Homo sapiens: one gene and its partner. The protein of the gene in region 1 interacts with the protein of each later gene in a pairwise test. Each region holds a gene or a part of one and is shown in the gene's direction. Other genes may lie near its edges.

Region 1 (3,500 bases):
AGGACCCTCCAGATCCCTGCCCAGCAGGCTGGACTTCAGTCCCAAGGTGATAACTAGAACAAGGGGGCCGAGCCTAGTCTGTCCAGCAGCGGGTGGAGGAGCCGCGGTAAGAAAGGCAGTCGGGTCTTACATTCAGGTACCTACTTGGGGCGAGAAGACCAAATCCAGTCACTCCAGCCCTGGAGGAGTCAGGGCGCCCACCCGGCTGCCCCACAGAAGGTGCAATTCCTAAACATGGTCACAAAGTAGCGCAGTGACATCTCAGCTGCTTCGGAGTTCCAGGAGAGGGTTTCTGGCTCAGGAGAATGGAGTTTCTGGGTGACTGGAAGATGAGGCTGTTGGCTAACTTCCCTTTCCTTCCCACTTAGGGGTCTATTTCCAGAAGCATTCCTCATTTCATTTTTTCCCCAGTGGGGCTTGGCTAGGGGTGGGGAGGCATGGGGAAAAAGTGAAGAGAAGAGAAGGAAATGCATGGAATGCAAGCGGAGGCCTCTTTGTCTACAGCGTTTTCACCTCCACTTGTGCAGGTTCATATTCAGGGCCTGGTGAAGTCAGTTCTGGCACGGCTCTCCAGTGGACTGGCAGTGGCCCTTAAAAATAGTTCTCAGGAAGATGTGTAGGTGGCGACGCTGAGTAGTGTTTATGTCCCAACATGAAGAGCAGGCCTCATTGTGTGTGTCCTGTGATTACAACTGTGTGAAAATACATGTGTTTGAGAAAAAATGCTGGAAGAAGATGCATGAAAATGTTTATACGTCCGTTGAGTTTGTATCTGAACTTTTGTCTCTTCCCCTCTTTATGTAATGTTATAGTATGTATATGGTATATTGACTTTCATGATTTAAATAATCAGAAAATAAATTTACTACGAAATGATAAAATAAAGGAGTTTGACTAGATCAGTGATCCTGGAACTGTAGTGGGTAATGAAGCACCTAAAAGGCTGCTTTTTTTGTTTGTTTGTTTTTCCTGAGACGGAGTCTTGCTCTGTCGCCCAGGCTGGAGTGCAGTGGCACAGTCTTGGCTCGCAGCAACCTCTGCCTCCCGGGTTCAAGCAGTTCTCCTGCCTCAGCCTCCTGAGTAGCCGCGATTACAGACACACAACACCACGCCCAGCTATTTTTTGTACTTTTAGTAGAGATGGGGTTTCACCATGTTGGCCAGGCTGGTCTCGAACTCTTGACTTCGTGATCTGCCCGCCTCAGCCTCCCAAAGTGCTGGGATTACAGGCGTGAGCCACCGCCCCCGGCCAGGGCTTATTAAAATAAGATTCTGGGGCCCTAACTACAGAGTTGCTGATTCAGTGAGCCTGGGGTAGACTTGGATATTTACGTTTCTCAGCAGTTCCCAAATGATGCTGCTGGTGTGGGGACCACAGAGAACCACTAGAGAAAAAACAAAAGAACCAAGACTTGAAACTAGGTTACTGACTTCCAGGCTAGGGTGCTTCCTACAGAAACAACACGAGGCTACAGGGCAAACCTCACTTCACTTCTAACTTTCTAGGGTTGAAGGGGTGAGAATCAACATCCACTGCTCCTGGATACTGACTTCTTCCCCAGTAGCTACAACCCCAAAAGTATTTAAAACCCCAAGATATTTGTGAAAATGTATTTGTCCAAAATAAAATATCTACATGCTAAAAAGAAAGCAGTCCTTGAAATGAACAAAAATTCCCAAGCTGAGCATTACTTGTAATTGGTAGAAAAATAATCATTGCAAAAGCTAATTAACCATCCACCCTGAGCGGCTCCTTGGCAGGCCTGAAAATATGATCAGGAAAATTCTTTTCCTATGAGTGAGGCATTATCAAAGCAGGGCAGAGCCTATGGGTTATCCGTTGACTAGGACTGACCTTTCCGTGACTGCCAAAAACTTTCCAGTGACAAATGTTCCAGCTTCCTTGTCCCAAGAGAAACTAAAGTGGTAAGAAAACAAACTGCTTTATACTGAAACATAACAAGATCAACAGCAGCTGTGACAGCATTTATTAAACTGTCCGCTGTGTACCAGGCCCCATGGTCAGTAGGAAAGTATATCCCTGAGGGTACAAAAATGAAAAAGCGTACATCCACTCACCAAGGACTTCCCACTGTGCCAGGGTCTCTAGCCCCTTATGGGGTGTGTGTGGGGGCAGGGAGGTTGGAGATTGGGAGAGGCGCATAATTTCAACACAATGCAATTAGTTTGTAAATAACACTACATGCAAAATGTTACAAGAGCCCTGAGGCAGCGCAGGTTAGCTGAGAAGCCTTTACAGAGGAGGTGATATCTGAGTTGAATCTTGAAGTTTCCTTCAAGAAGTGGAAGGACATTGTAAGCAGAGGGAAAAAAAACATGAACCAGCCTTGCTTGACTCAGAGGCTGGAAAAGGGAGAGTGAAGTTGGGAATTCTTGAGATTTTGGGGTGGCCCTGGATGGGGTACATAAAAAGAAGTGGCCAGAGGGAAGGACAGGAAGGGCCATCCTCAGAAGTTTTGTCCTCATCCTGGAGGCAGGGCAGACCACTGATGAGGGGGGTTGTTTTTAAAAGGCTGCCTTTCCCAGATGGATTGATAGACTTATCTCAGCCTGGCTAAAACCCTGGCCACTCCCTGATAGAGAACAAGGTTCCCAGCAGGCAAGGGCAGGGGTGGGGCCCAGCAGGGACCAGTTTTGCAAGCTCACCTGGCCCTACACCCGCAAACACTCAGCTTTTCCTCCAAGACAAGCCTCAAGGCTTGGAGCAAGTCTCTTTGAAGTTTTCTTATGAATTGCTATGCTTAACACTAAATCATGGGAAAGATTAACACCCATGAAACTGAAGCAGGAGCACATAACAGGAGCTTAATATGAATCTTCCATCTTAAAAATATCTTATTCTACATCTGAAAAGAGAACCATTTGGAAATTCCACGTCATACTCACTTATAGACTTAACAGCAATTTCAACTTTAAAAATTCATTCCCACCTGCATTATATGACTTGATTCTTACAGTAGCCCTGTAAAGAATATTGGGTAGGAATTCTTATTCCCATTTTAGAGACGTAAACATTCACCATCCGCGGACCATGGGGAACACAGCTGACATCAATTGCAAGTCAGTTTCTGTGGTTTACTGCAGCAAGGGAGAGCTCACTCCAGACTTGGGCTTGTGCTGGTTGAGTCTAAGGAAGGGGTGGAAAGCAAGGGGAATTCTGGATTGGATTCTGTCAAAAAGGAGTCCAATTCAATGATTCGGCATCATAATAATTTAATAGTTATCACTAATTATTATTTAATATAATCAATAAATGATCTAGCAGATGGGAAGATGAAAACAGGGCTGAGCTGGCTTTGATACAGCAACACAAGTCATTCCTGTTAGTCAGAAGAGGGAAATGTTTAGTCATGTTTTTTGATTTTGGAGTGGCCTCCTCCCTGTCTTGATGCAAACACAGATGTGGAGGGTCTGTGCTGCACATGTTTCTGTTCGGTGGGCATTGTCTCTGTTCACTTGTGAATATTATGGTCTGGCTG
Region 2 (2,952 bases), on another chromosome or scaffold:
TCTACGTGATTGAGATATGTGTATATTCACAGATCGATAGGACTTTGGTAGGAATCTTAGAAATAAGCTTGTCCATTTTGCAGATGAATAACTACTATGGAATTTTGTTTGTTTGTTTGATGGCAGTGACTGTTTTACAGGAATGCTGTGGCCACTTCAGAGTTTTACACATGCAATAGACTAATCTTCGCTTATTAGTATCTCCAGGATTTAAGGTAGTGAGAAGAATATACTGGCTCCTCCAAAGAACGTCACCAGAAAGGTTATTCAATGTAGTTGACATTTGATGAAGGTTCTTTTCTGTTCAGCAGTGAAGGATTGGTTTTCTCTGGAAGAAACAACCAGGCCAGTATTCTTGACCAAACACAGCCCATACTGGTGGCAGCTAATAGCAGCCCTGTGTACAGAGGCTTTCAACTGCCATAGCCAGGCTGCAAGGGGAGCAGGCAAGAATATATTAATCTTCCAAGCTGGATTTCTAAAACCCCTGGAAAGAAACATTTACATTTCAAATCAAAACATTTCATTACTGAGGAGCGCTGTCTACCCAAATGAGCACTTCCACTCCCTGGTAGACAGGCCAGCTGAAATGTTGTTATTTCATGAACGTGCTAAAAGTAGATGTCTGAATTTATTTCGTTCCCATGTTAATGAGTTGTCCTTCACTCTTACATGCCTATAAATAATAGCACATCATTGCTTAACATATCTTAATTCTGAGAGAGTTTAGCTTTTTTATGGCAGAGCTGATATGTATAGGGACATATCACAAACTTTATGTCCTTGTCCTGTTTAACCAATCACTGGGGGCCAGAAACGCGAAACAGAAACTCAGCTCAGGCTTGGCTTCAAATACTTCTAAGAGTCCTGCACCGCTCCACCAAAGATAAACAGGATCATGTCAAGGGCCTTTGAGCTCATCAGATAAGACTCTCTCCCATTATGAACAACGTAACTTGCCATCATCTGCAGTTACAGCAAACACTGAACTTCAGTTCTTGACCCTGCACAAACACATACATAATGAGACCCTCTGCCTTGCTATGGATTTCCAAAATTCCTTAGGGTCTCTTAAAAATCTGCTGGGATGTGAAACTTTGTCTTTACCTCACCCATACTCATAGGCATTGTCCCTCACCCCTCTCTCATCTGTCCCTCTATCCTTTCTTCCTGCTTTAACTTATCTTTTAAATTGTGATAAAATATGTATAACATAAAATTTACCATTTTAACCATTTTTAAGTGTACAATGCCATGCCATTAAATACATGCACAATGTTGTGCAACCATCACCACTATCCATTTTCAGAACTCTTTTTTTAATCATGCCAAACAAGTGGTGTGTCTGTTAAACACGAATTCCCCGTTCTCCCCTTCTCACAGCCCCTGGGAACCTCTGTCCTACTTTCTGTCTCTATGAATTTGCCTATCCTAGGTACCTCATGTAAGTGAAATCATACAATATTTGTCCTTTTGTGACTGGCTTATTTCACCCAGCACAGTGCCTTTAGTGTTCATCCACGTTGTAGCATGTGTCAGAATTTTATTCCTTTTTTATAGCTGAATAATGTTCCATTGTATGGATATACTACATTTTGGTTATGCATTTACCTATTGATAGACACTTGGGTTGTTTCCACCTTTTGACTATTATGAATAATGCTGCGATGAATATTGGTGTACAAGTATCTATTTGAGTCCCTGCTTTCAATTCTTTGGGGTATATACCTAGGAGTAGAATTGTTGTATCATATAGTAACTCTATGTTTAACTTTCTGAGGAACTGCTAAACTGTTTTCTATAGTGGCTGCACCATTTTACATTTCCATTAACAGTGCACCAGGGCTTCAGTTTCTTCACATCCTCAACAACACTTGTTATTTTTCTTTTGTGTGTGTGTAATAGCCATTCTAATGGTGTGAAGTGGTATCTTATTGTTTTGATTTGCATTTCCCAAATGACTAAGGATGGTGAGCATCTTTTCATGTGCTTATTGGCTATGTATATATATATATTCTTTGGAGAAATAACTAATCAAGTCCTATGCCCATTTTTGAATTGAGCTGTTTGAGGTTTTTTGTTGGTGAGTTGCAAGAATAATTTTTTTCTTTTTTTGAGACGGATTCTTGCTCTGTCATCAGGCTGGAGTGCAGTGGTGCAATCTTGGCTCACTGCAACCTCCGCCTCCTGGGTTCAAGCAGTTCTCCTGCCTTAGCCTCCTGAGTAACTGGGACTACAGGCGTGCACCACCACACCCGGCTAATTTTTGTATTTTTAGTAGAGATGGGGTTTCACTGTGTTGGCCAGGATGGTCTCAATCTCTTGACCTCATGATCCACCCGCCTCGGCCTCCCAAAGTGCTGGGATTACAGGTGTGAGCCACTGTGCTCAACCAGAATAATTTTTATATCCTGAATATTAATCCCTTATCAGATATATGATTTGCAATTTTTTTTAATTTTGTTGTCTTTTCACTCTCTTGACCATGTCCTTTGATGCACAAAAGTTTTAAATTTTTATTCAGCCTAGTTTATCTGTTTTTTTTTTTCTTTTTTCCCTGTGCTTTTTCTTTTTTTTCTTTTAGAGACAGAGTCTTGCTCTGTTGGCCAGGCTGGAGTGCAGTGGTGCAATCTCGGCTCACTGCAATCTCCACCTCCCAGGCTCAAGCAATTCTCCTGCCTCAGCCTCCTGAGTAGGTGGGATTATAGCTGCCCACCACCACACCCAGCTGAATTTTTTTTTTTTTTTTTTTTTGTATTTTTAGTAGAGACAGGGTTTCACCATGTTGGCCAGGCTGGTCTCGAACTCCTGACCTCAAGTGATCCGCCTGCCTCAGCCTCCCAAAGTGCTGGGACCACCGCACTGGACTCCCTGTGCTTCTGGTGTTACATCCAAGAAATCATTGCCAAAGCCAATATTCCTAAAGATTTTTCCCTAATTATTCTTCTAAGA

Evidence for each region. Proteins that work in one complex are often made in the same cells at the same time.
Region 2: the proteins of LIPC (region 1) and ADHFE1 interact in a two-hybrid assay, tested with the Homo sapiens proteins (one large-scale study listed by BioGRID and IntAct).

The regions. Positions count from the first base shown.
Region 1 is NC_000015.10:58,438,491-58,441,990, forward strand, and holds part of LIPC (hepatic triacylglycerol lipase precursor), read left to right. Parts: intron 1-3,500. UniProt on the Homo sapiens protein: Catalyzes the hydrolysis of triglycerides and phospholipids present in circulating plasma lipoproteins, including chylomicrons, intermediate density lipoproteins (IDL), low density lipoproteins (LDL) of large size and high density lipoproteins (HDL), releasing free fatty acids (FFA) and smaller lipoprotein particles.
Region 2 is NC_000008.11:66,463,504-66,466,455, forward strand, and holds part of ADHFE1 (hydroxyacid-oxoacid transhydrogenase, mitochondrial), read left to right. Parts: intron 1-2,952. UniProt on the Homo sapiens protein: Catalyzes the cofactor-independent reversible oxidation of gamma-hydroxybutyrate (GHB) to succinic semialdehyde (SSA) coupled to reduction of 2-ketoglutarate (2-KG) to D-2-hydroxyglutarate (D-2-HG).